Linked DNA regions of Homo sapiens. The protein of the gene in region 2 interacts with the protein of the main gene of each other region in a pairwise test. Each region holds a gene or a part of one and is shown on either strand. Other genes may lie near its edges. The genes, in order: TMEM14C, TMEM52B, SLC35B4 and CLDN19.

Region 1 (7,550 bases), on a different chromosome or scaffold from region 2:
GGGCCAAATTAGGGAATAAAACCTGGCAACCGGAGCCAACAGCAGCTTGGGTACTCTTCCCTCCTGTGGGTAGTTTGATCTTTATAATCTTGCTGATGCTCAGTTTTTGTGTCTGCTCTATGTTTATGAGCTGTAACACTCACCGTAGAAGTCTGTGGTTTTACTCCTGAAATCAGCAAGACCACGCACCCATGGGGAGGAACAAACAATTCCAGACGTGCCGCTTTTAAGAGTTGTAACACTCCGTGCGAAGGTCTGGCTTCACTCCTGAAGTCAGCGAACCCACTGGGAGGAAAGAACAACTCTGGGCACGCCACCTTTAAGAGCTGTAACACTGAAGGTTTGCGGCTTCACGCCTTAAGTCAGGGAGACTACAAAACCGCAAGGGAGTAATGAACTCTGGTCGCGCCACATTTAAAAGCTGTTAACACTCACAGCGAAGGTCTGCAGCTTCACTCCTGAAATCAGCGAGACCACGAACCCACCAGAAGAAAGACACTCCGGACTCACAATCTTTTAGGAACTGTAACACTTACTTCGAGGGTCTAAGGCTTCATTCTTGAAGTTGGCAACACCAAGAGTGTACTGGAAGGAACCAATTCCGGACCCACCAGGACCCAGTACAACCCTTAACGATAGTAAATATTCAGGGATTTTTGCAGAGAAGCAGGGACAAGGGGACTTGGCAAGAGCTATGAAGACCTCTTGCCTCTCATCTGTGGGCAGCCTTAGAATTTTCCAGGTTGATTGCTGGGGACCAAATAGTTACAGTCTACTTGGCACCTAAACTAATCCCACCTTCAGGGAACCTTGTCATTCAGGAGCCAGGTCCTCCTCTAGGACTGAAGGTGGCAAAAATGTGTGCCCTTTGGCAACACTGCATGACACATGAAAGGGCCAACATGATTCAAACTCTTAGCTATGGAAGCCTGGGAGGATGGTAGGTTTGGATGGTCTATGGCCTTCTGATGCCTCTATCACTCCAACACAAGTGCCCTTAGTTGTTCAGTGTCCTATAAAAAAGGATGGAAAACTAGGACCACTTTCAAGGGGCTTATGCAAATACATAAAGTGCCTGAATTAAACTCTGAAGCAGTAACAGGGTAGAGAACATGGTATGTTTTCCTTTTTAAAGACGGAATGAAAACTAAAGCAAGGGCTACCAGATTGAGTTAATTCTTCGTGTTGAAACGGTACCAGTATCCAGTTAATGTGTCCAACAAAGACACCAAACTAGGTGATTCAAGCTCTAGATGGGTTTTCTAGTTTCACATTTATGTATGAACTAATTACAACAAAAAAATCACCTTTTAATTTTGCTACACAATCCTAATTTTTTTTTTTTTTTTTTTTTTGAGATAGAGTCTCATCGCCCAGGCTGGAGTGCAGTGGCGCGGTCTTGGCTCACTGCAACCTCTGCCTCCCGGGTTGAAGTGATTCTCCTGCCTCAGCCTCTCTGGTAGCTGGGACTACAGGCGCCCGCCACCACACCTGGCTAATTTTTGTATTTTTAGTAGAGATGGGGTTTTAGCACATTGGCCATGCTGGTGTCGAACTCCTGACCTTGTGACCCGCCTGCCTCGGCTTCCCAAAGTGTGGGGATTACAGGCGTGAGCCACCGTGCCCAGCCCACAGTCCTAACTTTAGAAATCCTCAGTGGCTGCCGGGCATGGTGGCTCACACCTGTAATCCCAGCACTTTGGGAGGCTGAGGCAGTCGGATCACCTGAGGTCGGGAGTTTGAGATCAGGTTGACCAACATGGAAAACCTCGTCTCTACTAAAAATACAAAATTAGCCGGGCATGGTGGCGCATGCCTGTAATTCCAGGTACTTGGGAGGCTGAGGCAGGAGAATGGCTTGAACCCGGGAGGCAGAGGTTGCCTGGGCAACAAGAGCGAAACTCCGTTTCAAAAAAAAAAAAAAAAGAAGAAAACCTCAGTGGCCAGGTACAGTAGGTCATGCTTATTACTCCAGTACATTTTGGGAGGCCAAAGCGAGAGGATCACTTGAGACCAGGAGTTTGAGACCAGCCTGGGCAACAGAGCAAGACTGCATCTCCAAAAAAAAAAAAAGTACATTAGCTGGGTGTGGTGGTATGCACCAGTAGTACCAGCTATTCAGGAGGCTGAGGTGGGATGACTGAACCCAAGAGTTTGAGGCTACAGTGACATATGATTGCACCACTGCCCTCCAGCCTAGGCAACAGAGAAAGACCTTGTCTCTTGAAAAACAAAAAAAATCCTCAGAGGTCATTTTTGAAACAAGCTTCAATGCAATGTACAATCAAATAAGTTTCCTTGGTCCTTAAGTTATTCAAAATAGGTAATTTCTAAATATTAACAAAATACTTTCATGTTTCTATATCTTGCTGCTAGCAATATCTCATTCTATGAACTAGACAGCTCTGGCAATGAAGACCCCATAGGAAATATTATTTATAGTAAACTTTATTTTCATTGATATTTCACTTAACATAATTTCAAAGTCAGTCTGTGGTCTAAGATGAGCAAAAGAACAGATATTGTAAATCTCCTAAAAGACTTTTTTTCACACTGTTCCTCAGAGCAGGGAATGGGGTTTCAGAGCCCTGAAAGCTGACACCTAACATTTTACCCTTGAGATTTACCTACAGATACAGAAAGAAAAGACAACATCAATATACAAGAATCAAGCTCTATGAGGGTCTTATTAAGCTCTTGTGTTACATACTCGCCACCTCTGTAGGTTTGTAATCATGACTGATTTTCCACCTCTCTGCCAAGTTTGGTGTCTTTTTTTTTAGGTAAAATGTCAGATGCAAAAATGCTGCACTTATTTCTCTTAATATATTGAAAATAGTGGAAGATGCAGATTTTTAATTCTTCATCAGTCTAAGCTGGAACATGACTTCTGCTAATGGGGTCTGTTGAACATACTAACTCCAACTTTGGCGACCATCAGCAAACTGTTTAAAAGAAACAAGATAGAAAATGTCAGGTAAAGGACAGAACAGGCAACTATGTTTTTAAGGAACTAAACTGCTGGTTCCTCACAACTGCGTGGGGGAGGAGGTACTAAGGCAAGAGTGGTCAGGGGTAAATTTCCATCCCTGGAGGAACCAGAGAAAAAGCAAGCCAAGGGAGTCTTAAAATAGCACACATGAGCTGGATCCTAACCCAACTGCCAATAATTTGAAGAGATGAAGAAATGGAGGCAAGAGAGAGCAAGGCCTCCCCACCATCACAGATCTGATTAATGGTAGACTCTCCAGCGTCTCAGTTTACTGCTCTAGACCTTGCTCCACACTGACTTCCTTGCTTCAGGTATAAAACATTATACTGGTAGCATCACAACTATGATCAGAGTATGTAATCTTTCTCCAAAACAGATTTTTAAAAATTCCCCTACCTTCAGGATGTCTTTATGATACTTAACTAAATTTTTTGTTTTTGAGAAGGTTTTTTATTTTTATTTTTTCAGATGGAGTCTCACTCACCTCTGTTGCCCAGGCTGGAGTTCAGCAGCACAATTTCGGCTCACTGCAACCTCCGTCTCCCAGGTTCAAGAGATTTTCCTGACTCAGTGTCCCAAGTAGCTGTGATTACAGGTGTGCACCACCATGCCCGGCTAATTTTTGTATTTTTCATAGAGATGGGGTTTCACCATGTTGGGCAGACTGGTCTTGAACTCCTGACCTCAAGTGATCCGCCCGCTCTGGCCTCCCAAAGTGCTGGGATTGTAGGCATGAGCCACCACACCTGGCCTACAACTAAAGTTTTGTTTGTTTGTTTGTTTGTTTTTTGAGATGGAGTCTTGCTCTGTCCCCCAGGCTGGAGTGCAGTGGCATGATCTCAGCTCACTGTAATCTCCGCTTCCCAGGTTGAAGCAATTCTCCCTGCCCCAGCCTTCCGAGTAGCTGGGATTACAAGTGCCCACTACCATAACCAGCTAATTTTTGTATTTTTCATAGAGACGGGGTTTCGCAATGTTGGCCAGGATGGTCTTGAACCCCTGACATCAGGTGATCCGCCTGCCTCTGCCTCCCAAATTGCTGGGATTACAGGTGTGAACCACTGTGCCCAGCCACAACTAAATTTTTTAAAAACCACAATTTGGTTTAGGTTTTATAATCAAAATTAGAAAACAGGGCCAGCCGCAGTGGGTCACGCCTGTAATCCCAGCACTTTGGGAGGCCGAAGTGGGCGGATCACAAGATCAGGAGTTCCAGACCAGCCTGGCCAATGTGGTGAAACACCATCTCTACCAAAACAACAAAAATAGCTGGGCATGGTGGTGCACGCCTGTAATCCCAGCTACTCCGGAGGCTGAGGCATGAGAATCGCTTGAACCCGGGAGGCAGATGGTGATTGCAGTGAGCGGAGATCACGCCATTGCACTCCATCCTGGGTGACAGAGTGATACTCCGTCTCAATAACAACAACAAAAAATAGAAAACAGGATTCAATCAAAATTCTCTTTTAGCAAAATTTTCTGTAAAAGACATCTACACATCTAAGAAATATGGGGCCCCCAAATCTTCCATGCAAGTCACACAAAAGGCTGCAGTCATGGCTTTGCACTAAAACTTCTGCCACCATATAGGGAGGAGTTTGGATGGACTGGAAAGCAAATATGAGAACAAACCCATTTCCACGGTGAATGGATATACTCATGCCATTTTGACATTAAACTAGCTATTGTTTTTGAAACATTTCCTATTAGTGTATATATCAAATGTCAGTTGATACATAGCATCAGATATCCTGAAACAAGTAAGGTTTTGAATGCATAAGGTATCCTGGGGAATAAACTGAACTCTACATGGTAAAGAAGAGTAATAGAATGAAAGTACCTGGCACCTGCAATTAAACCTGCAGGCATGAATTTTCCAGAGTGGTAGAACCTCATTCCCATAATGCCAGCCAAGGTACCAGATGTAGCTGATGAAAAACATATAAAGAAGTGTTAAAACTCATTACATCTTCTACGCAGGGGAATCAGAAGTGGGCCAAGCCCCACCCATCTCTCAAGGCTCACGCCTCATCCTATGCTTATTCCTCTTTCCCCAAGTCGGGGAGACTACTGACTGCCCACATCCTATGGGTCCTAGTACCAATATTGGCCAAATAGGGCCCTTCACAGCCTGGGTCCTGCCTGCCCTTCCAGCTTCATCTCTTACCACTTGTCTTCTGCAAAACCCACACTTTAGCCATCAATATGTTAGTTTTCTCCAAAATGCTACTGTTTCTCACGCCCTGCAGACGCTACTTCCTCTACCCTGCACACAATTCCCACTGGGTATCTGTCGAAGCACCTACTACATGTCAAGTGCTGTGCTAGGAGCTGGAGAATACAAAGGTTATTGTAACTGTCTTTGCCCTTTTACAGTGCTTCAGGTCTGATGGGACAGACTTTAAAGACTCACACGAATAAAAAGGCTTAGACAAAAAAGTGAAGATTGGCTGAGATCTGAAATTACGCAGGAATTAATGAGCTGAAGGATGGGAAGGCCCATTCCAGGCAGAGGGGACAGTATATGCAGAGGCCCTGTGGTGACAGGGAGCATGGGACATTCACCCTAAAAGGGCAGCATGGCACAGAAGTCAAGATGCAGTTTGTGAGTAAGAGGTGCCAGACCACATGGAGCCTTGAAGGCCATACTGGGGTTTGGGTTTTCATCGTAAGAACAATGAGAAGCTATTAAAGGATGCTAAGCAGAAGGACACATGAACAGAGTCACATTTTTTTTTTTAATTTTTGAGACAGAGTCTTGATCTGTCGCCCAGGCTAGAGTGCAGTGGCGTGATCTTGGCTCACTGCAACCTCCACCTCCTGGGATCAAGCAATTCTCAAGTCTCAGCCTCCTGAGTAACTCGGACTACAGGCGTCCGCCACCACGCCTGGCTAATTTTTTTTTTAAATTAGAGACCGGGTTTCACCACGTTGCCTACGGTGGTCTCAAACTCCTGAGCTCAGGCAATCCACCCTCCTTGGCCTCCCAAACCTGAAGTCAGGAGTTACAGACCAGCCTGGACAACATGGCGAAACTCCTGTCTCTACTAAAAATAGAAAAATTAGCCGGGCATGTTGGTGGACGCCTGAATCCCAGCTACCTAGAAGGCTGAGATAGGAGAATTGCTTGAATCTGGGAGGTGGAGGTTGCAGTGAGCCAAGGTTGTGCCACTACACTCTGGCCTGGGCAATATGTGAGACTCCATCTCAAAAAAAGGGAAGTTTATGAAGGGGAAGGAGACAAGCACATCTGAATATCAATGCGGGGATCCACCTAAAAGGAGGAATACAAATACAAGACAGGATCCTGGCCAGTGTAAAGGTCTGGAGAAGATCAGGGAGAAGACACCCAAAGCCCAGAGGAAGACACTGGTGTTGGAGAGGAGGGAAACAGGACGAGGGGAGGCTTGGAGATTAAAGGCTCCAGGAGTCCCCACCTGATGGCTGCTGTTTTTTCCCTACAATAGGCGTGAGGTCATTTGCTGAGTAGAGTAGCATCAGAGAAAGGGAAAATGCAGGCTCAAGTCATTCTGGAGCATGAGGGAGGGAGCTGTTAGGCAGAGCTGGGACCTGGACACACCTCCTTCCCCAGCACACCCCATTAGCCATCACGGACCTCCCTTCCCCACCCCAGCTGATATGTACAGATCACATGGCTTCTCCCTCCCACATGGCACTCATTCTCACACGGGGTTTGTAGAGACCGCAAGGAACCCACACTCCTAGCAGTGTCTGACACATGGGTGGAGCCCCACAGAAATGTACTGAAAGCCACTCTGATAAGGAGGACTCTTCGGTCCCCCACACCACTCACTGTCCGTGCTGCTTACAGGGTACCTTTCCAGTCCTGCTTCTATGCCTATGTTTTTTGTTTTTTGACATGGAGTCTTGCTCTGTCGCCCAGGCTGGAGTGCAGTGGTGTGATCTCAGCTCAACTGCAATCTCTGCCTCCCAGGTTCAAGTGATTCTCCTGCCTCAGCCTCCCAAGTAGCTGGGACTACAGGCACCCGCCACCACCCCCAGCTAATTTTTGTATTTTTAGTAGAGATGGGGTTTCACCATGTTGGTCAGGCTGGTCTCGAACTTCTCACCTTGTAATCCACTTGCCTCGGCCTCCCAAAGTGCTGGGATTACAGGTGTGAGTCACTGCAGTCACATTTAGCTAACTGCTAAAGAGGTGATTTTCAAATGGGGAAATCGCAATTCAGATGCAAACCTAACCCAGACGTGTGATAGTTTAGTGATGCTGAAGCCAAAGGTCTTCAGTGGGCAACCTCAACGGTTGATACATTTGCCTGATAGAATTTTAATGCTACTGGGTAAATATAGTCACGAGCTATGAAAATCCTTCCATGTTCTGTATGTAAAAGATAAACAGAAACCAGCATAATTCCTGCCTCTGCACCCTCATTTTAAAACTTTCTGAGGACTTGGTAGAAGCAGTGAAATTGTCGTAAGTGAAGTGTGAAGAACTCACCCCATCCCACCAAACCAGGGTCTTTTGGAAAAGAGTATTCTGGATACATAGCTGCCCTAAGGAGACGCCAAAGCAGACATA
Region 2 (5,265 bases):
CTGGTTCAAGCGATTCTTCTGCCTCTGTCTCCTGAGTAGCTGGGATTACAGGCACGTGCCACCACGCCCAGCTAATTTTTGTATTTTTAGTAGAGACGGGGTTTCACCATGTTGGTCGGGCTGGTCTCGAACTCCTGACCTTGTGATCCGCCCTCTTCGGCCTCCCAAAGTGCTGGGATTGCAGGCATGAGCCGCCGTGCCCAGTTGGTACGTAATTTCTTAAATCATACTTGCTGAACACACATAAAACCTGTTAAATGATTGTAATGCAAGCACAACTCAAATTATTTATTTATGTATGTATTTATTTATTTATTTATTATTTTTTTTGAGATAGAGTTTTGCTCTTATTGCCCAGGCTAGAGTGCAGTGGCATGATCTCAGCTCACTGCAACCTCCACCTCCCAGGTTCAAGCGATTCTCCTGCCTCAGCCTCCCGAGTAGCTGGGACTACAGGCCCGCACCACCACGCCCGGCTAATTTTTGTATTTTTAGTAGAGACGGGGTTACACCATGTTGGCCAGGATGGTCTGGAATTCCTGACTTCAAGTGATCCACCCACCTCGGCCTCCCAAAGTGCTGGGATTACAGGCGTGAGCCACTGTGCCCAGCCGAGCCAGTGTTTAAAGAGTAGATGTGAAGAAAGTTAAAAAGGATTTTAAAAAATTGAGAACAATAATGATGGTGATGGAGGTGATTAACAGATGTATTAGATTCAGTATAGAAAGAATTGAGGCCAAAGGGGTACAAATAACTAGTGACCAAATGGGGGAGTTACGGGAGTGAGAGACTCCATGTGACTGAGGAGCAGCACATGTGAAGCAGATGAGGAAAAGGCACACTATGGGATGGACACAGGGGACAGGGTAGTAGCATGTCATGGTTGGAAGTGATTCTATATTTCAAATAAGGTGGTAGGGGCTAGGGAGTGGATGTGGGGAAGAGAGATTCCTTTAGGAATAGACATTATGTCTTATCCTTTAGGATAAGACATTATAGGCAAGATTTCCCCCAAGATATTCTAATGCCAATGAACATTTTACCTTTGCCAAGTCTGTGATGTCCTGGTGCCTTAATAGAAGAGCCTAGAATGTCTTTTGGAATGTGTCTTTGATGACTAAATGACTCATTTGGCAGCAGTAAAACAAGGTCCCTTCAGGCGCTATTAGCAATTCATGCATTTCAATAATTCCCAGAGCCAATTTGTTAAATGACTCAGGATAATTTCAGATCCCCAGCAGGTTATACTCAGAACATTTTTCCCTCCGGGCTGAGTGAGCATTCCAAGAATGTAGTTAACAAGGAGCTGCATAATCAGCCAATTCTTGGCTCTGTGTTGCCTCCTTGAGTTCTGGAGTTAATTAATTGCCTAATAAACAATTAGTTTTCTCAAATATTCCTTACCTCTACCCAGAACATATTACGAGGAATCACTTATATCTGTTGCTGTTTACCGCAATCAACAAGTATTTATTGATAAAAACAAAGCCATTTCAGGTGTGACAACAGTAACATAGTTGGCAAAAAGATAAATGGGAACATGGCTCTCAGATAAGTCATAGCAGGCAAGGGAAGGTTAGAAGACAGTAGGAAGAATAACATACATATGCATAACACTTTACAAATCATGCCACATATATTTAGCTTCTTTGATCTTCACAAAAACCTTCTGAGGTGTTATTATTTCCCATTTTTTAGGGAAAAAACGGCTTTAAAGATTTCAGGCCAGGAGCAGGGGGTCAGGCCTCTAATTCCAGCACTTTGGGAGGCCAAGGTGGGCGGATCACCTGACGTCAGGAGTTCTAGACCAGACTGGCCAACATGGTGAAACCCCCTCTCCACTAAAAATACAAAAATTAGCTGGGCACGGTGGCAGGCAGCTGTAATCCCAGCTAGTCGGGAAGCTGAGGCAGAAGAATTGCTTGAATCCGGGAGGTGGAGGTTACAGTGAGCTGAGACCATGCCATTGCATCCCAGCCTGGGCTACAAGAGCAAAACTCCATCTCAAAAAAAAAAAAAAGGATTTCAGTGACTTTTCTAAGGTGAGTAGTTTTTCCCTAAATGTGCGTCACTTCCTCGATTTTCCAATAATAATACTTTGGGAGGTGGTATGTTTTGTGGATAGATTAGCACTGTGCTGCGGCATGGTCCATGGGAAGCATCTCAACCAGGCTTAGTTCAGCATTTAGTTTTTGCTCCAAGAACTCGAGAGATGTGCAGATAGGCTCAAAGGAGAGAGTGTGTTTTCCACCATGGCTCCTCTAGGTGGCAGTGAGGGCCACCACTAGAGACTAGCGTGTGTCACTATAGAGGTGTTGTGGCTTTAAGTGGTCCAGGCAAAACAGGAAAGAAGTAAAGCAACACTATTCCTTTAGAGTTAAAACAGGGTGCAGGTATACATGCATGTGCGCACATATATGTGTTTGCAGTGCGGAGGAACTGAAGAATTAATCCAACTGTGACTGCACAGTATGGAGTTTTTCATACTGCTGAGGGGTAGGACCAGAGAGAAAGAAAGACTGATATTTGGCACTTAAATACTATACTGTGTTCTCTTTGCCCATATCAGCAATGCCATCCCTAGCTTTTAGATATCCGAGTGGGTATGTTGTGCTGTCTAAGATGATCATTGTCATTCGGTGTAAAATCGATTGCTGTCTCAGGAGGAAAGATGCATGCATTCAGTGCATTAATGTCGATGGCTGTGCTGACACTGTTGTCTTTCTTTTCCAGTTAACCGCAGTGGATTCGCTGACAGAGAGAGACACAACTTGCAGTATCATGTGGGTACAGGAATTCTATATGCACTCAATAGTTAAAGGAATTCAAGACACCTTGATGCTTTCCTGGTTTAGTAGTAATCAGTGTGGCTAGAGATTACTTGCAGATTTTGGCCATTGGATACAAAATTAGAGTTCCCAATTAGAGCATTCTGTATCGGAAGATATAAAGGCCTGTGAACGAAGAGTAAGAACCATCTTTCCCATAGAATGATGGTGTTAGATGCCATCTTAAAACTTCTGAGGGTTAGAAAAGTATGTGTTCCATTTTCCCACAGACTCTGGACATCACTCCACTCCTATTTATAAAATGACAGCTCTCATCAGTTCCAAGAGTCAACTATTCGAGTCGACTCCTTCTCTGTTGGAGGCAGCTGCTTTTCTTCAGGTACTGGGGGTAGATCAGGTGCTTTCTGCCCGCACATGGCTACTGTGAAGCGACTCATGTGAAGAGCTTCTTCATACCCTGGGAGGGTGTCCAAAGAGGAGGGCAGCTGGCCCAGGGAGCTGTGGGAGTGAGCCACAGCCAGGATCCTCCGAGCTGCAGGGCCAAACACCGACTGCAGAGCTGTGAAGAAAGAAGGAACAGAGCTAAGAAACTAAGGGAAACAGGACACCCTCAGACAGCAGAGACTTACTTCACACTTAACTGTCGCTTCATTTTTTACAAGTATCCAAACTCATTGTCACTCCTTGCCCCAAATTTTATGAATATCCTTTGAAGCATGTTTACAACCCAGCTTCCTGCTCTGCTAGAAGGACCTGTTTTCTCTGGTAACCTCAAATAATCTAAAGAATGTTTCTGTATCTCTCTCTCTCTCTTTTTTTTTTTTTTTTTTTGAGACGGAGTTTTGCTCTTGTTGCCCAGGCTGGAGTGCAATGGTGGATCTTGGCTCATTGCAACCTCCGCCTCCTGGATTCAAGTGATTCTCCTGCCTCAGCCTCCCAAGTAGCTGGGATTACAGGCGCCCGCCACCATGCCCAGGTAATTTTTGTATTTTTAGTAGAGACAGGGTTTCACTATGTTGGCCAGGCTGGTCTTGAACTCCTGACCTCAGGTGATCCACCCGCCTTGGCCTCCCAAAGTGCTGGGATTACAGGAGTGAACCACCACACCCAGCCAAGAATGTTTCTGCATCCTGCAACTCAACCCTGCCCTTTCCCCTTTCAGACTTAGATCCCTTTCCCCCAGCCCCCGATACTATAGACTCCTTAGGATTATTTATTTTTACCTCATCTCTTTTCTTTTTTTTTTTTTTTTTAGACAGTGTCTCACTCTGTCACCCAGGTTGGAGTGCAGTGGCACAATCTCGGGTCGCTGCAACCTCCACCTCCCAGGTTCAAACAATTCTCTCCTGCCTCGTCCTCCCGAGTAGCTGGGATTACAGGCATGTGCCAACGTGCCTGGCTAATTTTTTTTTTTTTTTTTTTTTTTTTTTTTTTTTTTGAGACGGAGTCTCGCTCTGTCGCCCAGGCTGGAGTGCAGTGGCGCGATCTCGGCTCACTGCAAGCTCCGCCTCCCGGGTTCTCGCCATTCTCCTGCCTCAGCCTCCTGAGTAGCTGGGACTACAGGCGCCCGCCACCACGCCGAGCTAATTTTTGTATTTTCAGTAGAGATGGGGTTTCACTGCGTTAGCCAGGATGGTCTCGATCTCCTGACCTTGTGATCCACCCGCTTCGGCCTCCCAAAGTGCTGGGATTACAGGTGTGAGCCACCGTGCCTGGCCAACAAAAGTGCCTGGCTAATTTTTGTATTTTTAGTAGAGGTGGGGTTTCACCATGTTGGCCAGTCTGGTCTCAATCTCCTGACCTCAAATAATCCACCTGCCTCGGCCTCCCAAAGTTCTGGGATTACAAGCATGAGCCACCATGCCCAGTTATCTTTTTTCTTTTTCTTTTTCTTTTTCTTTTTCTTTTTCTTCTTTTCCTTCCTTCCTTCCTTCCTTCCTTCCTTCCTTCCTTCCTTCCTTCCCTCTCTCTCTTTCTTTCTTTCCTTTTTTATTTTTTGATGGTGTCTCACTCTGTAGCCCAAGCTGGAGTGAAGTGGCGCCATCTCGGCTCACTGAAACCTCCGCCTCCTGGGCTCAAATGATTCTCGTGCCTCAGCCTCCCGAGTAGCTGGGACTACAAGCCCGTGCCACCACGCCCAGCTAAATTTTGTACGTTAATAGGGACGGGGTTTCACCATGTTGCCCAGGGTGGTCTCAAACTCCTGAGCTCAGATGATCTGCCCGCCTTGGACTGAGCCACCGTGCCCAGCCTTGGTTATCCTTTTTTCCTAAGATGACAGTGAGAAAGGGGAGGTAGGAAAGGTGAACAGCAACACATCATATCATTCTATTTTGTTGTTGTTGTTGTTTTGAGACAGGGTCTTTCTCTGTCGCTCACCCAGGCTGGAGTGCAGTGGCACGATCTCGGCTCACTTCAACCTTTGCCTCCCGGGTTCAAGCGAGTGTCACGCCTCAGCTTCCCAAGTAGCTGGGAT
Region 3 (8,992 bases), on a different chromosome or scaffold from region 2:
CCAACCTCAGGTGATCCACCCACCTCAGCCTCCCAAAGTGCTGGGATTACAGGCCTGAACCACTGTGCACAGCCCCTGACCAGTTTTAATGGAAAAAGTCATGCAAGGATCTCTCTGTTCTCTAAAAAGGTGACAATCAATCAACAGGTGTTTATTGAAAGTCCACTATGTTTTCAATGCTTTGAAGGTCACCTTATTATAATTGCTTTGGAAACTCCCTTCAGGAACAGTACAATCTCACAAAAATCTCAGACCACATGGAAATGTTATCACCACAATTATCAGCCTTTTTTGCCTGGAGTGCTTTGGGAGAAACCCTACCTTCATCAAGAATTTCCCTTTATTATCTCAAGTCTCTGCTTAAAAAAAAAAAAAAAAATCAGAAAAGACAAGTATCTCTTTCATGTTCTAGAAGTAAATGTACTTTTATGAAAGAAGAAGAGATAAGAAATAAGTTAAATAACATTAATAGCATGTTTGAATATAAAATCAAAGAGATGAGGGAAAATGAAGGTAAAATCTGTTTCCTAGGGAAAATTTAATTTTCTTTTTATTAATCACTCATTAGACCTCAGAAGAATAAAAGTAAACCATCCACTTTGAGATTTCTCTTTTTGCCTTCTCAGATGAAAGCCACCCTTGCTCACGCATTCACAAACCTATTCTTCTACCCAAGACCACTTACTACAAGAACCTTCTAGTTCTGCCATATATTCAATCGATCTACTTAACTATACTTTTCAGAGGAACATATACACGTGATCCGGCAGCACTTACGGATCTAAATATCATATGCAGGGGCATGGCAATGTTGAGATTCAGGGCATAGTTGTTCACCACGCTCACGGTGAAGAACATGGTCACCATTATGGCATAGTACCTGAAATGCAGACAGAACAGCTCATCAAACAGAATCTAGGATTTCAAGAAAATCAAGTATAGGAAATATATATTTTTGGCTAAAAAGGCATTTTGCCTGTTTCCTCTGCGTTGCAAGATTGCATCACTATTATGCCATGTCAACTACTAAGTACATATCAAAACGCTTCACAAAGCCAGACTAACATGGGAAAATCTAAGTTATAAAATACATTTAAAGAAACACTATTTAAAAATTTTCAAGTATACATAGCAACTTAAAATGATTGTATTGATTCTTTGTAAATAATTTTCATATACCTCTGAAGAACTTGAAAATGGCTGATTTTCTCAAATACCTCCTCTATACACTTGTTTGTACTGTTAATTTTCGCTGTTTCTAAAGAAAGTATTTGCTAAGTTAAGGATTATTTTCAGCCTAGCAGCTGCTAAAATTCTCCCGCATTCTGAACTAGTGGCCTCCAAATTAATGAGGACATGGTTTGACTTGTACAGATTTTTATTTAAAATCAGGGTCTCTGTTTTTTGAAAGTTTATAGGTCTTAAAATAATAGAAACAAAAACTAAAAAAAAAAAAAAATCCAGTAACCCTAATAACTTAAAGGGATAAATACAAATGAATTATTATGAACAGATGGATTAAACAAATAATTTTACATTTGTATGTCATCACTGTGATTCAGAAAATACATAAGATGCCTTCTACATATATTGGGCCAAACCATATAAAATTGCCGTTTTTATAGGTCAAAAAGAGTTGAATGTCAGAAATTTCATATGACTCAACTTCCTATATTGAGTAAGAGAAAAAAACAGCATTTAAAATAAATGGCTAAAGAATGCAGGGCAAAAGCAAATAAGTGGTTCCATATTCTTCAGGAAATGTTGATCTTGGAGATTCCCAACCATTTTCCACCTTTGCACATCTGAAGGATATGACAGCACTGAGTCCTAAGTGATCTTCCCTGAAAGAACCGATTCTGCGTTGCTAGTTAGGTGTGGAGCCATACACCACAACAGGCAGTCAAGCCAAGGCTGAATTAATATAGTCTGGAAAGTCTGAGGAACTTGACAATGAACACATATGCAAAATTACCAGCAACAGCTTCTTCACAGCTTCTAAATAATATACTATCAGCGACTTTACAAAGTTTCTTGCCAAATTTTCTTAGTTCTACCTTGAAGAGGTGCCATTTACAGAGTTTGTCAAGGTCTTTTAGGGTAATTAATTTAACTATTCCACATTGCTTGCCTAGAAATTGTGGATGGGGATGAACGACATGAGCAAAATTTTGTTTATGGCTCCACCTACAGAAAATAAAATGGCCAACACACATAGGACATGCATGAGAATATGGTTATGAGGGCAAGATCACAGAGACCCTCAAAGGGCAGGATGGGGAGTCTGGACATCATTCAGAACATCGTGGTAACCACAGAGTGGGGCGACATGATAAAACGATATTAAGTGAAATTGATGGATGAAGAGGTGGGAGGCAGGGAAGTCAGCCAGCTAGGATGCTATTATAAAAGATATGGTGACAGGGTATACTTCCTGATCTATGCTAGTGGTGGAGAGAATGGGGAGAGATAGTGGGAAGAGGCAGGAAAGGGCCAGAGGAGTCAAGAAATGCTGGGGCTTTTACTGCAATATAAATGCTGGTCTTTAGGGGCAGAAAGTTTTATGCAGATACTAAAGCAAATGAAAAACTAAAAGTATCTGGAATATTTAGCATCGCACTGGGAACTTTAAAAGTATAATATTAACAAAATTCAGCCAGATTTTCTATAGCAGGCTACGTAAGAATGCTGCAAAAGAAAACCAACAAAGATGGGCCTTTGCCTTCATACTTGGATATATTCACACCAGAATGTCGCTCTAAACGGGAGTAAGTGACATCATCCTACTAAATACTCACAACTGGATGGATTACACTTTTATCTCAAGTCACTCTCAGCAAGAAGGCTGAGTTTTCAATACACTGTTTAACATAAGAACTGCCCTGTTTTCTATTTGGCCCCATGAGTACAATTATGCACATTTGGACTAATGTACTACAGGTCTGGCATCAACAAATTTTGACTTTGCTTGCCATTCATTTTCTTTTAATTGAGGTGAAATTCACATAACATAAAATTAACCATTTTAAAGTGAACAATTCCGTGGCATTTAGTACATTCACAAAGTTATGTAACTACTACCTCTATTTATTTCCAAAAGCCATTCGTTTTTAAAAAGAAACAAGGATACTCCCCTTTTAGAATGTTTGATAACTTCACCAACACAGAAGACAGCACAAAATTTGTGGTCACACTAGGCCTTCTGACTAATCCTATACTAAATAAGAACACACACACATACACACTCTTGTCTCCATCATGGTTATTTTAAATCTTGTGGCAGAAATTTTATTTTCGAAGTAGGTACCCCGGATTTTCACAACATATTAAATTCAGAAAATGACTTATTATTCTACTGGTATCTTTGAAATAAATCTTATAAAAGAATGTCTCATCCTCCTTTTATACAGGTACCACCTCTTTACTTTCTTAAAAAATCCAAAAGCTAAAAGAGACTCTAATGTACCATACCTTATTGGGATAGCTGGTGGCTTCCTTCCCAAATCAGCTTCAAAGAGGAAGCCTTCCACAGCAATAAATAAAAATTGTGCAAATGTCACAATGTTCCCACATCCTGGATGCTTCCTGTATAGTGAATAATAAAAGAGGGGGTGAAGGCACAAAAACTGAGATACAGAACACTAAAATGCATTCTAATTAGAGGGCCAGAATAACAGCGTGGATGGATTTCAATTACCCACTGTCCTTTATCTCAATGTTCATAGCCTTTGGATCACATATACTTAGCATTGATCTCACAGAGAAGAATGTCAAGCTTTCTTATTTAACTCTTCCTTGCGTGTATCAGGCCATGAGTGAGAATTACTGTGACGACACACTTGTTCCCAGAACTACGATACAGCTTTCCTAGTAAACTGCAGGAAATTGGTCATATGTTCTTATTGGGATCTTTGCTTCACCAGAAAGGTCTTTAATCAGGATCCCAGTCAGCTTAGGTAGCAAAGCCCAGGGACAGAAATATGCTCAGGTCTCCTGGAATGTTTATATATCCCTCCTGACCAGGAATCACCAAGACTGCTGTCAAACGAAAAATGGACCCAGTGTTGATGATAGGAACATTACTTTAAATGGTGCCCAGCAACGGGGCAAAATTGGTTCTTGGGATGGGGGAGATATCTTACTCTTTTTATAACAATAAAGTACAAATATACATACAGTACCTGAACCAGTACACACTATATCTATGGCAGGGGAGGGATTAAGAAAACAACGTCTAAAAAGTATTCTGGAGGAGGCATAATGAACAAAAGACTGAAAAACACTGCCGTAGTCTACTATTCTCTACAGCTCTTAACCCAGTGTTTTGAATATATTAGGCACTCAAAAAATGTTTGTGGAATTCAATAGAGTCTCTTTAGTGATCTGTGAAACAGTTGGGGAAGATTCCCCACATTCAACAGTGATTGTTAGGAACAAATTTACAAAGTTAAAAACTTCCTCCTGACATTCATCTTGAGGCACTCTGAAAACTAGTCATTTAAAATGTTCAGGTTTTCTTGAGCTTGTCTTCCATTCAGCTCTGCTCAATCGCTGGAAGAAGAACAAAGTGAGCAGTTATCTTTGCTCTCCTGAAGCTTCCAGATTTCCTATAATACCAATATTCACCTGCCTTCGTATTCTGTGTTTTCATCTTTTTTTTTTTTTTTTGAGACAGAGTCTCGCTCTGTCGCCCAGGCTGGAGTGCAGTGGTGCCATCTTGGCTCACTGCAAGCTCCGCCTCCCGGGTTCGTGCCATTCTCCTGCCTCAGCCTCCCGAGGAGCTGGGACTACAGGTGCCCGCCACCAGGCCCGGCTAATTTTTTTGTTTTTTTTCAGTAGAGACAGCGTTTCACTGTGTTAGCCAGGATGGTCTCCACCTCCTGACCTTGCGATCCACCTGCCTCGGCCTCCCAAAGTGCTGGGATTACAGGCGTGAGCCACCACACCCGGCCTCTGTATTTTCATCTTGACCAAAGGCATTTACCTGAAGCTGGTGAGAGGTATGTAATTGTATTATTACATATTAATATACTGCTACTTACCAGAAATGACTCCATTCTCCATTGGTATTAGTATTATACAGCAATGCCAAGATATACAAGTCCTTAAATATACCCATTAGGCACAAAAATAAGACAATACAGGCATGAGCCATTCTTCTACAGAACTAGGCTTACTAACTGAAACAGAAATGTTGCTACTCTTTAAGCTCTGCTGCCTATGAAGGTTTCCTTGAAAACTGCTTTCTATTCAATTCAACAAGTTCTCTTTTAGCACTTCTTATGTTCAAAGGACAAGGCTAAATGCAGGAATCCATAAATAATCATGTAAGACATTTACCTCATTCAAGGACCTAATTAAAACCATTAGCCTAAATATGAGTGACAGAAGGAACTTTAACTCTAGATGGTTCCTAGCACGGTGCTTTGGAACTCGGGCCAGCCTACTCTGCTTTTTAAAAACCTGTTTCCCAAATGGTCGGCACGGTGGCTGGCTCACACCTATAATCCCAGCACTTTGGGAGGCTAAGGCAGGTGGATCACCTGAGGTCAGGAGTTCGAGACCAGCTTGGCCAACATGGTGAAACCCATCTCTACTAAAAATACAAAAATTAGCCAGATGTGGTGGTGCATGCCTGTAATCCCAGCTACTCGGGAGGCTGAGGCAGGAGAATCACTTGAACCTGGGAGGTGGAGGTTGCAGTGAGCCGAGATCATGCCACTGCCCTCCAGCCTGGGTGACAAAGCAAGACTCTTGTCTCAAAAACAAACAACAACAACAAAAAAACCTATTTACCCAAAGAGGCTCACTCTCCCACTTCTAATTTGATTAGTCTGGGGTAGGACCCTGGAATCTGTACTTTTAAAAGCTTTCCACTTGATTGTCACATGCAGCCAGGTTGGAGAAATACCAGTCAAGGTGCAGGGAAAGGGCTGAGAGTGTATGTGAGTGCATGTGTCGCTGTATATGTGAATGCACAGGTAGTTCTCAGGTGCTGACACAAGGTTGAGAACCACTATGCTCCACTGTGCTTAAAAGTACACACCGACATGCGATATGTTGCTCTGTCACTTGCTATGTGACAGAAGTGAATTAATTTATCTAAGTCTAGTGTTTTTATCTTTAAAATGGAAACCATATGAGTGCCTATCTCTGATTTATTGTAGAGTAAATGAGCCATCCCTGAAAAGCACTTAACACAGCGCCTGCCACAGAGTGAAAAAGGCAAATATGATGACCAGTATTTAGGATCTTGCAGGCTGAAAGGTCTTCAGCCTTTAAAAGACATTCCAGTTGACTAAGTTTTCTCATCTCTAAAATGAAACTGATTTCACTGTCGTAGTGAGTATTCAATGAGAAAATACATGTAAGTGCCAAGCACAAGAGGTAATCCAAAAGAGGCTTCAAAGTTTCCTTCTATGTTCTCTTTAACAAGTTTAGGCCAAGTCAACTAAAGAACAATTATCAAGACTCAATTATGTGTAGAGTTAGGTGGCTGCTTCCAGGGAGCCCCCAACTTGAATGGGACTGGATCCCTGCCCAAGAAGATGACAATATGGGAGAGCCAGATGCGAAGGAGGACGTCAGAAGCCAGTGCCTTAGCAGGGATGGTGATGGGACAGACCATGTCCCATTTACCTTTCTGCTCTCACTTTCGGGTCAGTGACCCACCTTTACTCAAGCAAGAGAATGAATGTGAGGGTTCCAATGTGATCTAGAATCTTATAATTTCTACAAAAGATAAAAAGAGATTTAAAAAATGATTCACATGACATGTGTATTCGCTATAGGATTTTTAAAAAGGGCATCTTAATACTTTTTATTTTATGGAGGTGGGTATTGATATGCCCATTTCATTCCATTTCTAAAGACGCTGAGGGTCCCATTGCACTGCGTCAGGTAAGTCTCCCAGCGGTCAACGGCAAATAAATGGCATTTGCGGTTACCCTTAGCATTATGATTATTACAATTCAGTGGGGTTAAGTATGGGTTTTTAGTTGTGCAATAATTGCCACTATCTAATGTTAGGACACTCCCAAGAGATACTCTATTCCCATTTTGAGTCACTTTCCATTTCTTCCTTTTCCCAGTCCAGCAATAACCCTATTCTACTTTTTGTTTCTATTTCTATAGAATTTAAAAATCTCCCTAATGTACTCAAATAATTTAATTTTTGAAAGCTCAACTTATGAAGCCTTTTCGAAACACACTGTTGTATAGCTACCAATGGAATTATTTATTTTAACTTGAATAATTCATTTTAAAACTTCAGAGTAAAAACTTGGATCCCTTAATCTTGTTTTCTTGAGCTCTCTTCCTCAGGAATTGTAATCACTAACTGCAAACAGTTTCTCTTACTTTGAATTCTCTTGGCAAAAATTCCAATTTTTATTTAAAAAAGAATGCAACTTTGAAGAGAATGAATTGGGCAGATCGTTTATGCCGTTTGCATTTCTTTTGCTGAATTTAGGAAACTATTTAATTCAAGATCAGGCACTTGAATGAAAAATAAAATAGGAAAAAAAATGTTTCAGATTGTTTTTCTGGTGTAAGGCAAGCAATAATATCTTGCCTAGTTAGTTAGCTGGTGTGTGTATATCTTGTTTCCAAGGTAGAATGTAAGCTCCCTAAGGAGGAATATCAAGGCACTCGTCCATTACTACCTATCTGCTCTGTCCACTGCATTGTGTTTTATTATTGGTCCCAATCATAGGGATAAAAATCAGAAAGAAAAGCCTGAGTTTGTTTTCCAATTTGGGGAAAATGGTTAAAAATGTCCTCTTCTTCCTGCAAGTCACTTAGCATTTATATTTAGTGTTATACTTGCTACTTATTAGGGCACCTACTGGCTCCAAGCCAGCCAATATAAAAAGCACAGTTCCTAGGCTATAAAAATTTATGGGGCTTCCACTGTGATGTCCCAAGATAAAGTCACAAATTCCAAGGCCATATCTAGAAAGAACCTTAAGGCCATCTGGTTCAACTAGCTCTTATTTTATTGATCTGTAACACAAGAAGTGGAGACTTGTCTTAGGAAAAGGCTCTATTCAGTCTGGTGCACCACTGATTATTTTAATAAATGCACCTCCTCACCACTTTATGAAAACCCATTGTTTTATGCAAAAAATGCAGATTTACAAAAAAAAGATAAGTGATGATTTATTTACAAATTATTCAAAATATTTTAAATAGGAGCTCCTATAATGCATGAAAATATTTTATAAAATTAGATTTGTCCACGACTTTGTAGGACCATAAATATATAAAAAAGAAATATATCTTTCTTTTATATATTAAAGAAATATATCTGTATTGAAACCAAATTGTTGGACAGAATGGGAAGCCCTACAAGTGTGCTTTAGGCTTCACATGCGCATCTCACTTCATCCTTCAAAACTCTGTGAAGCTGGTAGAACCATCATCACCATCACCCCCTTTTACAGTTGGGTCAGACTCAGGGAGATCAAGTAATTCAGTCAAGGGCTCACAAACTAGTAAAGAGGGGATTCAGTTGCTTGCATATTCTCATGTCATACAGCCTTTGGCAAGATTTAATTTAATGGCATATTCAACACAAATATTACCATTATTCCCTGACTTTCATTTCCATGGCTGGCCCGATGGTATCACTTTTTTATATTTTCTTTTTTTATTTTTTGAGACGTAGTCTTGCACTGTTGCCCAGGCTGGAGTGCAATGGTGCTATCTCGGCTCACTGCAACCTCCACCTCCCGGGTTCTAACGATTATCCTGCCTCAGCCTCCTGAGTAGCTGGGATTACAGGTGTCCACCACCAGGCCCAGCTAATTTTTGTATCTTTAGTAGAGACGGGGTCTTACCATATTGGCCAGGCTGGTCTTGAACCCCTGACCTCGTGATCCACCCACCTCGGACTCCCAAAGTGCTGGGATTACAGGTGTGAGCCACCATGCCTGGCCAACTTTTTTATATTTTCAAATCAATTGTTGCCAAAGTGGCCTTCCTTTAAAAG
Region 4 (9,824 bases), on a different chromosome or scaffold from region 2:
CCTCCAGCTCCTGCTCTGAGCAACCTTGGGCTCATTTCCTGATCTGGCCAGTGGAGGGGGCATGGGAGGGCCTGAGAGGTCTGCACGGGAGGAGTGGGGCAATCCCTGCCATGTTTTTTCCCAGTCACATTCTGGCCCACAGAACTCCCAGCCAAGACTGCTCCCGCTGCCCTCTGGAGAAGGCCAGACCCTTCCACCTGGCACTCTGGGCTCTCCACACCCAGACCCTGCTGGCCAGGCCAGCCCTGCTCCTGGTTCTCACTGCCTTGGTGCCTTTGCACAAGGCACCCCCAGCTGGGGCACCAAGCCCCCCAGCCCACCACTCCTGTGCCTCCCCTGTTCCTTCTCTGCCTTCAGAGCCCAGTTCAGATGCCACCTCTTCGTGGGGTCTTTCCTTGACATCCTCTGTGTTCACCCCGCCCCTTGCGCCGACTCCACTACCATGCTTTCTCCAGGAGGCCTCAGCCCCTTGCTTGTCCGGCTCCCTGGGAAGCCCCTTGAGGGCAGACAGAGCCATCAGTGTCCCCAGGACCCAGCACAGGGCCTGGCAGCCCAAGTGGCATTGGGGACTGTTGAAGGGATCGGGGGCCGAGTCCTATCCTGACATGCCTGAGCTGGACCTTGCTTGGCAGACTTTGTGGCTGCAGCCACCACCCAGGGAACAAACCTTGTACCTGAGATCTCCTCCCTCCCCTTGCCTCTCAACACCTCTGCCTCCTCCAGGCATCCCTCCCGATTGCAAAAGCCCAGACATCTTTTCTCATCCTCTCTCCACCCCAAGGCCCAAAGCCCATTGGGATGTCTAGGGTTAAGACTGTCCCATTCTCTGCTCCTGGCTAGGCTGAGAAGTGAGGGAGGAGCCAAGGTGGGCCCAGGCCCTTTGCAGAGCATCCCCTTCAGTTCCCATGCCCACAGTCTTACAAGTCCTGGTTATCTCCTGAATATCAGCCTGCTTTCCACTGCTCCCTCCCTGTTGCCCCAAACTCTCTGCTCAGACCTTTGGGACAGCCGCCTTCCTGGTGTCACTCCCTCCCCACCATTCTGCACATCACAGCCAGAAGGACTGCCGCTGCCTCCACCCAAATGAGGAACAAAATCTTCCTGTGGTTGCAAGGCCCTCCACGATCTGCCCTTATTCTCAAGTTTCTTCCTGGCCCAGAATAACTGCTGCCTCCTGCAGGAAGTCATCTCAGCCCTGCTGCCACCAGCAGAAATGAAAACAGCTCAGGCTTGCTGGGTACTGTCCAGGGCCCGGGCACGGTGCCACACCCTCACCTGCATCCTGCTGGATCCTGACAACCATGTGTGAACTGGTGCTCAGGTTCTAGCTCCATTTCACAGAGGAGGAAACTAGGCACAGAAAGATTAAGTAACTTGCCCAGGTGACACAGTGCATGCAAAGCTGGGATTGATTGATCGTTTGATTTTTTTGAGACAAAATCTCACTCTGTCACCCAGACTGGAGTGCAGTGGCGCAATCTCGGCTCATTGCAACTTTTGCCTCCCGGGTTCAAGCTATTCTCCTGCCTCTGCCTCCCGAGTAGCTGAGATTACAGGCGCCCGCCACCATGCCCAGATATTTTTTGTATTTTTAATAGAGACGGGGTTTCACCATGTTGGCCAGGCTGGTCTTGAACTCCTGACCTCAGGTGATCCACCCATCTTGGCTTCCCAAAGTGCTGGGATTACAGGCGTGAGCCACTGCACCCAGCCAGAGCTGGGATTGAAACCCAGAGCCAGGGCACTTAGGTCCTTAGAGAGTCCTTGCTGCACCTGGGTGCCCATCACAGGCCTCCCGCCCCTATGGAGGGCCCCACCACACTCCTCCTGGCGCCCCCCTTTAAAGCTTCTTGGACAGCAGCTGGATCCTGTCCCCACTTCCCCCGCCAGGTGATCCAGTGGACAAAGGTCAGTGGCCCCAGAGGAGGTAAAGCAAAAGACCCAAGCCCTGGCACCCACCTGGCATTGACAGGTGTGCTTGGGTTGAAGAACTCCTGGGTCACCAGGGTGGCATACCACGAGACAGCAGTCAAAGTGCAGAGGCCTAAAGACAAAGCAGAGGGGCGCTCAGCTCTGCTCTGGCCCCCCGAGGCCACTGGGGCTGGGGCTGCCTGCCATGGTTGTGATTGTGCAGGAGTGAGGGGCACTCACCTGCCAGGATGAAGAGGGCTCCCCCGGCGATGGCAACACGGCCCTTGGCAATGGGGTTGCTGTCTCCCACCCGCGTACACTTCATGCCAACTACGCTGAGGACCATGGCCACGAAGCCCAGGAGCACGGCCACCACCATCAGGGCCCGCGCTGATTGGATGTGACCTAGGGTGGGCGGGATGACACTGAGTCGGGCTGGCGGGGATGGGGGTTGGGTCGGTGCCTGGGGTCGGTGGAAGGAGCCCAGCTTGAGAGGGGCTTGAGCAGGAGCTGGCCTGGGGGGTCAGACCACCTTCTGGCAGGTGCAGGATAGTGAGGAGTGACAGCCCGGGCATGAGGACAGGGTGTGGGGGTGAGAGTCCCCTTCACTGTCAACGCCATTCTCCACTCGCCCTTGCAGGCTTTTCCGGTAGTATGATTCACTCTGCTGTTGCTTTCTGGCCTGGGGACTCCCTCTTGGGCTTGGCCCATCCTCCCAAGCAGCTGAGGGCAGCTCCAGGGTCCCCTCAGGTTTGGTAGGTGGAAGAGCTGGGGGTATCTGAGGCCCAGCTCAACTCAGCCTGAGCCCCGCAGCAACCCCTCCCCAGCAGCCATTCAGACAACAGTCACTTTCCCCTCTGCCCATGGCAGCTGGAAGCTTGCCTCTTCACGGGTGCATGGGTCCATCCTGGGCCCTGGGGGGTGCTCAGGAGACCTGGGTCCCTCAGCGAGGCTAGATGACCTGCCTGAACTGACCTGCCTGAACTGGCACAATGGGGCTGGTTGAAGGCCGCTCTGCTCCCAGCTCCCATGGGGAGCAGATTGTCCCTGGGGGCTCCTGGGCAGATTGCAGGTGGATCACCTCCACCCCAGAGTTAGAACTTCGGCGGTGCCTGTCAGGCTCATCTCCACACCCCAGAAGGAGAGGGACTGCATGCAGACACACCTGTCTGTGCATGCATGTGCACGTGTGTGCGTGTGCATGCGTGTTTGCATGCATGTGCATGCACCCATATGCTGGCACACAGGCCTGGGAGCAGGACTAGGGAGCAGGTGTGCATCATACAGTGTGTGTCTGTCTACTGACTGTGGGGAGAAGTGGATGAAGGGTCTTAACTGAGTCTTTCAGAGTGCCACAGGTATTAGTATTCCCCTTTAGAGATGAGAACATCACAATGGGAAGAGGTTTGGTGACTAGTTCAAAGTTATAGTGACAGAGCAGGAATCTGGACCCACAGCCGCCAGACCCTAGAGCCCTCCCCTCCCACAGGGCAGCAGGCTGGCCTGGACCGTCAATGGGCACAGGGCAGTAGTGGGGGAATTGTAGAGCGGAGGCTGGAGGTTGGAGCCCAGCGCAGATAGCAGACTGTGAGGAAAACTTGCTCCAGACTCCCCTGCTGTTCCCACCTCCCATCTCCCACCCCGCCGGCCTGGGGCCTACCGTCCAGGGCGAGCAGCGAGTCGTAGAGCTTGCACTGCACTTGCCCAGTGCTCTGGGAGGCGCAGGACATCCAGAGCCCTTCATAGAGGCCCACGGCAGTGATGATGGCGTCGCCTGCGTAGGAAGACTGCTTCCACTGTGGCAGGGCTGTGCTAGCAATGATGCCCACCCAGCCACCCAGGGCCAAGAAGTAGCCCAGGAGCTGGAGGCCTGAGTTGGCCATGGCCCAGGAGAGAGGACCGAGGGTCCCAGGACTCAGAGCTGGGCCAGGGTGCCAGCAGGGGCTTTGGTCATGGCCAGGTGGGAGGAGCAGCTGGGCAGGGGGAGCAGCGAGAAGGAGGGTCAGAGGCAGAGAAGGAGAGGTGGTGCGGCGGCAGCGGCTGGAGCAAAGGCAGTGGCTCTGGACTCCAGAATGCAGGGGGAGGCCCAGGGGCTGGAAAAGGCCAGGGCCCGCCCACAGCAGCCGCCTAAGCCAGAGCAGGGTCCCCAGCAAAGCTCATGCCCAGCCCCCTGGGGGCGGAGGGCCGGCCCATGGCCCAGGTGGTGTCCCTGCCCCGCCCCGTTCCGCAGGGATAGGGAAGGGAGGGGCTGAGAGGAATGACCCAGCTGCCCTCTGGGCCTTTCCCCACAGGGAAACCCCTTTAGGAACCTGATTCGGGTGTCCTAAAATTCGGATAATCCCTAACCCAAACACCAGCCCTGGGAGGATGGACTTTGCTCTTGCAAGGCTGATCTAACCCTTGGGGTTTTCTGCCCTTTGACTTTAGGACAGAAGGGAAAGGAATGCCAGTTTGCAGCGGGTAAAACTAGAGTTAGATGTCAAGGATAACTTTTTGGCAGGGGCTCTGAAGCTGGATGTGGGGAGGCTGAGCTAGCGGTGGGGTGTTGGGAAGAGGGGTCATGGGTACCTGGGAGCTGTGTGTGCCAAAAATCAGGGAGGCCAGACCAGGAAATATGTACTGTGGGGTCTTTTTGAGATCTGAGGGGGACAGAAAAGGGGCCCTATCGAGGCTGGGCCAGCGCTGGCTGCCGGCCAGCAAGGGGCCTGGTGGGGAGCTGGGGAGACAGCCCCAACCTTCTGGCATCAGCCTGAAGGAAGGCGGATTGCTCAGCCCCTTAATCCCCTTGCTGGCTGGCTTAGTAGCTCCTGCTGGGACTGGAACACTGGGCCCTGGCCCCCAACTCTAGAGCAGCCTGGCGCGGAGCAGTGGCCTCTGCACATTCCCGGGGTTCAGGCTGCCCGCTCCGAGCACCCCCACCTCCCTCTTCTCTCTCCCAGTCTCTCTTGGTCTTCAGGAGTAGGGGAATGTTTAACTCTCTTCCACCTCATTAGCAATCCCCTCACGTTCAAGTGGGCCCCACTGCAGCGTGGGTGCAGAAGGAATGTCACAACCCTGCTTCCACTCCTGCCAGCCCCCCGCCGCCCCCTCCGTCCCCAACAGCCCACCCACCCTTCCTGGACTGCACTGGGGGAAGGCAGGGTCCTGCTGCAGACCCCTGCTGGCTTCCTCCCCCACAGCCCCAACCCCCCTCTGAAGGGACAAGTCCCCAGCCCGCTCTTGCATTCTTCACGTGGCTATGCAAACGAGAGGGTGCCAGGCGCTGAGCAGACAATGGCAGCCCTGTGTGCCCGCCCAGGGCGTAGGCCTCTGGTATGGCCTGCAGCTCTGGCCAGAGATGGGGGAGTGGTCTGCCATCTGAGGGTCAAGGGTGGGCACTGCTTGACCTGTGGTGGTGCACACTGGGACCCTCAGGCTCTCTGTGCTGGGAGGGTCAGAGCCACGTGGATCCGAGCACACACAGACCTGCTTCCTGGACGACCTGTGGGTCCCAAGACCAAATGGGGTCTAGGACAGTGGCAGAGAAGTAAGTCCTGAGCTCAGATTCTTCTACCACAATGACAAGACAGTAGGATTGAGGGGAGCCTCCTCCATCCTACTGGGGCCGCAATGGGCACCCTGTGACCAGTGCATTAATTTAAGCATGTGGGCCACTGTTGCAGGCAGCAGGCCTCCTAACAGTAAGGAGACCACGGCAGAGGGAGGTAATAGACCCCCAGCCAGGAAACAGCAGGAAGGGCTTTCCGCTTGAAACTGTGTGGTGCTGGCCCCTGTGGTCTCTCTCCCACACTCCTCCCTTTTTGAGGGAGGCACCAGGTCCAGATTGAAGGGGGCTGCGGGCAGTGACAAGATGCTCCCCAGGGGTGACCTGAATGACTGTGGTGCCTCAGGGTCCTCACTCTAAATGGGAGGTTTGCTTCATGGAGTTGTGGTGGTCCGTTAAAGTAAGCGATGTCTGGGGAGGGCAGGGGCCTGGTGCTGGGTAGCTGCTCCGCATATGCTCCTCCAAAGGCAAAGTCCTCCTTCTCTCCACGCTGGGCCTTGGCCCCTTTTCCCCGCCATCTGCAGGCGCTCTCTCTGTAGGGAAGATCCAGGGGTCATTCTGGTTTCAGGGGGACCTGGGTCAGGAGCCCAGAGGCCAGTCAGAAGCATGCCTCAGAGACCATGGGCTGCGGCCCCCTCCATTGACAATTTGAGGGCCAAAGAGAGAAAGGGAGCCACGGGTCCACAGGGCCACAGAGCCAGCAGGAGGCCTGCATGCTCCTCCATCCTGGGTGTTCCCAGAGCCTCTTCGTGATCCGGAACAGTGCTCTCCTCTTCCTCTGAAGTGCTTCTGTTTATCCCTTCTCTTTGTTATTTGAGGCTTTGAGTCTGTTCTACCAAAATATTCTCTCCTACCCTGACGGCCTTCCCTCATTCTTGTTCCAAAGCCTTTTGGAATTCAGATTCTGCTTCTGGAGCGGCATTCCTTAACCTGGCACAGCTTCTCCACCCAGGACACCTACCACTCCTGGTGCCCCCCCTTGCAGTCCAATGACTCCCAGACATGCGGGGAGAACAGGAAGGCTCAGGGTCACAGCCCAGCCTCCATTAAGAGCTCACTGAAACTGCCCTGGGGTAGCACAGCACCCTGTGCTTTCACTCAGGCTATGAGAAGCCTACAGTTCTAGCTTTACCCCTGCCACTGAAAAGCTATGGGACATTAGCCAAATCCTCAGCTTCCCTGGGCCTGGTTTCTCCATTGAAAAGTAGGGATAATAACACTTGCCCTGTCTGATGCATGAGGGAGTTTACAAGGATCAGATGATAGGTGAGAAAGGCTGTTTGAAAGCATAAAACGCCTGCAGAACTGTGACTAATGAAAGCTCTGTTCCAAAAAGACTCCCCGCACAGTCTGCCCCTCCAGCCTTCGCACTCTGGGAGTGGGCAGACTGCCTGTGGCTGAAGACCCACTGCCACTTCCTCTGCAACAGTGCCTGACCGAGAGCCAGCCTTGCTAGGTATGTGTTGATCATTGACTGATTGGTATGAGGATTCAATGCTTTTGCCTCCCTCCCTGTGAAAAATCGGAGACCTTTCCACCGCCCTCTCTCATTGTCAGTTAGGAGGGTCCGATTCAGTCTTTAGCAATCTAGCACCTTCTCTGCAATCATCATTTGAAATTTTGGAGTTCTTATCACCCTCCCAACTCAGAGTCTGAGATTCCCGGAACTATAAGCTTGGAATGGAGACTACTTGCCTCAGGGCGCACAGCTAGAAAGCAATACAGCCAGCTGTGTGGCCACCCCCAACGATTCTGCCTGCCCAGGCACGGCTAAGCATCCTGATCTGCAATCCCATCATACTCTTGGCATATTTCCATTCACTGCACTTATTGCGTCGTTTACCTCCTTCCTAAGGTCCCTGAGCACCTTGAGACTGTGTTAGCAGACACATTTTTGTGTTCCACCCTCTCGCCCGGGCCCTGCGCCTCTGTGACACATGTGGCTGTCCCATTTACCTGTGCTAACCACACTGAGTACAGCATCTGTCTCTTGATGCCCCTGCTGAGAGCTCTGCTAGATGCCTGGGGCGCCAGAGACCAGCGGCGTCTTCCACATCCAAATCTTCACTGTGTTTGAGGAGTTGCCTTTCATCCCCTCCAACCCTCCCATGGGCTCTCTCCTTTCTTCTCAAGCAGTCATCCTCTCATTGCTCGCGCGCCCTTGCATGTGCGTTACCAAACGCAGACCGAAATCACAGTCGCATCTCAGCCGGGCTGCCATCACCCCATGCTTCCAGGAGGACTCGCCCCACTCTATATACACTTATCTTGGGCCTGCTGCCTTGAAAACATCTGGCCTTTTGTGAGCTCAGTTAAGAGGCTGCTGCCTGTATCTGTTTAGCATAAGTTGAAACTGTAAAGTCATCTGCCTTGATGTGGAAACTTCTGGAAAACCAGAATTAGGCTGATGTAGTCTTCTGTAATGTTGATGTCTACCATGGGCTAAGTGTCGTGCTGGTTGCTTTGTGAGCATTCCCTTGTTCATCCGCTCAACCATCGCGGGAAGGACTGTGATTCCATTCCGCTGGTGAGGAAACACATACAGGTTCCCTAACTTGCTGGAGGTCACACAACTCCACATGGTGGAAGTGGGAGTGTCACCCAGCTCAGTGTGTGGGTAAAGTTCATGCTTTTTGCACTAACGTGGTCCTCTCTGTACGCCGAGTGAGCCACCCAAATAGGATGGCGGGGATCAACCATGATAAAAGGAGGAGTGACTGTCTTGACTGGATCATTCCCACCAGCCAACTAACACGCAGTGCTATCTCCCAGCTCAAAAAATAATCGTTTCCTAAAAAACAATTTTTCTTTTTTAATAGCAATACGGTCTTCCAATGTTGCCAAGGCTGGTCTTGAACTCCTGGGCTTAAGTGATCTCCTGACTTGGCCTCCCAAAGTGTTGGGATTACAAGTGTGTGCCACTGTGCTCAGCCCAATAAACTTTTTAATTGAAATTTTTGTTTTTGTTCTTATTTATTTATTTGAGATGGAGTGTCACTCTTGTTGCCCAGGCTGGAGTGCAATGGCGTGATCTTGGCTCACTGCAACCTCCGCCTCCTGGGTTCAAATGATTATCTCGCCTCAGTCTCCCGAGTAGCTGGGATTACAGGCGCCTGCCACCACACCCAGCTAATTTTTGTATTTTTAGTAGAGACGGGTTTCACCATGTTGGCCAGGCTGGTCTCGACCTCCTGACCTTGGGTGAGCCACCCACCTCAGTCTCCCAAAGTGCTGGGATTACAGGCGTGAGCCACAAAGACCAGCCTTGTTCTTTCTTTGAGACATGGTCTTGCTCTGTCACTCAGGCTGGAGTGCAATGGAGCAGGCTTGACGTCCTGGGCTCATGATCCTCCTACCTCAGCCTCCTTAGTATTGGGACCACAGGTGTGCATCACCATGCCTGGCTTTTCAAGTTTTTTTTAGAGATAGGGTCACCCTATGTTGACCAGGCTGGTCTTAAACTTCTGAACTCAAGTGATCCACTGGCCTTCGCCTCCCAAACTGCTGGGATTACAAGCGGAGCTACTGAGCCTGGCCTAGCTTCTTCTTGATGCCTTTTCTCACACCTCACATCCAATCCATCAGCAATGCCTGTTGGCTCTACTTTAAAAATAGGCCCCCAGACACCCCTGACAATCCACCACTTTCCTTTTTATTTGTTTTTAGAGTTGGGATCTTGCTTTCTTGTGAAGGCTGGAGTGCAGTCGGGCGATCATAGCTCACTGCAGCCTCGAACTTCCAGGCTCAAGCGATCTTCCTGCCTCAGCGTCCAGCTGGGACTACAGGCACGTGACACGTCTCCTGGCTAATGTCACCATACTCTTTCTTGACCAATCTACACCGCCACATTGGCTTCCTTGTTTTTCCTCCACCTTGGACCCTGACTTGTTTTATTTTCTACCTCTAAGGGTTTTACACACACACACACACACACACACACACACACACAATTTACATGTGTTATCTGTTTCTCCTACAAAATACAAGCTGTATGAAGGTGGGGACTTGTTCACTGCCACGTTCCCAGCACCAGGCACTTAGCTGGTGCTCAGTAAATACATATTGATTGATGGAAGAAGTGAACACTCATGTGCAGGTTCCTACACTCAACGCCCTGTGGCATCTCAAGCACAGTAAAAGCTCTGGACCTAGTACCAGGGATGTAGCCAGAGGAGCTGAATCTCCATTTCCAGTGTTTCCTAGAGTGTGTCTTCCTGCACAGGGAGGCCGAGATACAGGACACTGAGGCCAGACGGCAGAGCAGGAAGCATGTGGCTGACATAGGGGTGACGTGCCAGAGCACTGCTGACCGCCGCTCCCTGCCAGAAGAGGATTAACAATAATCCCAACCATTCACCCAGAGCTTTAC

What was found.
Region 1: the proteins of TMEM52B (region 2) and TMEM14C interact in binary tests that used the Homo sapiens proteins (3 or more experiments, as listed by UniProt).
Region 3: the proteins of TMEM52B (region 2) and SLC35B4 interact in binary tests that used the Homo sapiens proteins (3 or more experiments, as listed by UniProt).
Region 4: the proteins of TMEM52B (region 2) and CLDN19 interact in binary tests that used the Homo sapiens proteins (3 or more experiments, as listed by UniProt).

Annotation. Positions count from the first base shown.
Region 1 is NC_000006.12:10,726,010-10,733,559, reverse strand, and holds the end of TMEM14C (transmembrane protein 14C), read right to left. Parts: intron 4,921-7,550; coding exon 4,833-4,920; intron 2,946-4,832; coding exon 2,894-2,945; 3' UTR 2,433-2,893; downstream 1-2,432. UniProt on the Homo sapiens protein: Required for normal heme biosynthesis.
Region 2 is NC_000012.12:10,187,979-10,193,243, reverse strand, and holds the end of TMEM52B (transmembrane protein 52B isoform 2 precursor), read right to left. Parts: intron 3,349-5,265; coding exon 3,104-3,348; 3' UTR 1,440-3,103; downstream 1-1,439.
Region 3 is NC_000007.14:134,305,895-134,314,886, forward strand, and holds part of SLC35B4 (nucleotide sugar transporter SLC35B4), read right to left. Parts: intron 3,586-8,992; coding exon 3,472-3,585; intron 881-3,471; coding exon 778-880; intron 1-777. UniProt on the Homo sapiens protein: Antiporter that transports nucleotide sugars across the endoplasmic reticulum (ER) membrane in exchange for another nucleotide sugar.
Region 4 is NC_000001.11:42,736,270-42,746,093, forward strand, and holds the start of CLDN19 (claudin-19), read right to left. Parts: upstream 3,968-9,824; 5' UTR 3,795-3,967; coding exon 3,572-3,794; intron 2,317-3,571; coding exon 2,152-2,316; intron 2,045-2,151; coding exon 1,960-2,044; intron 1-1,959. UniProt on the Homo sapiens protein: Forms paracellular channels: coassembles with CLDN16 into tight junction strands with cation-selective channels through the strands, conveying epithelial permeability in a process known as paracellular tight junction permeability.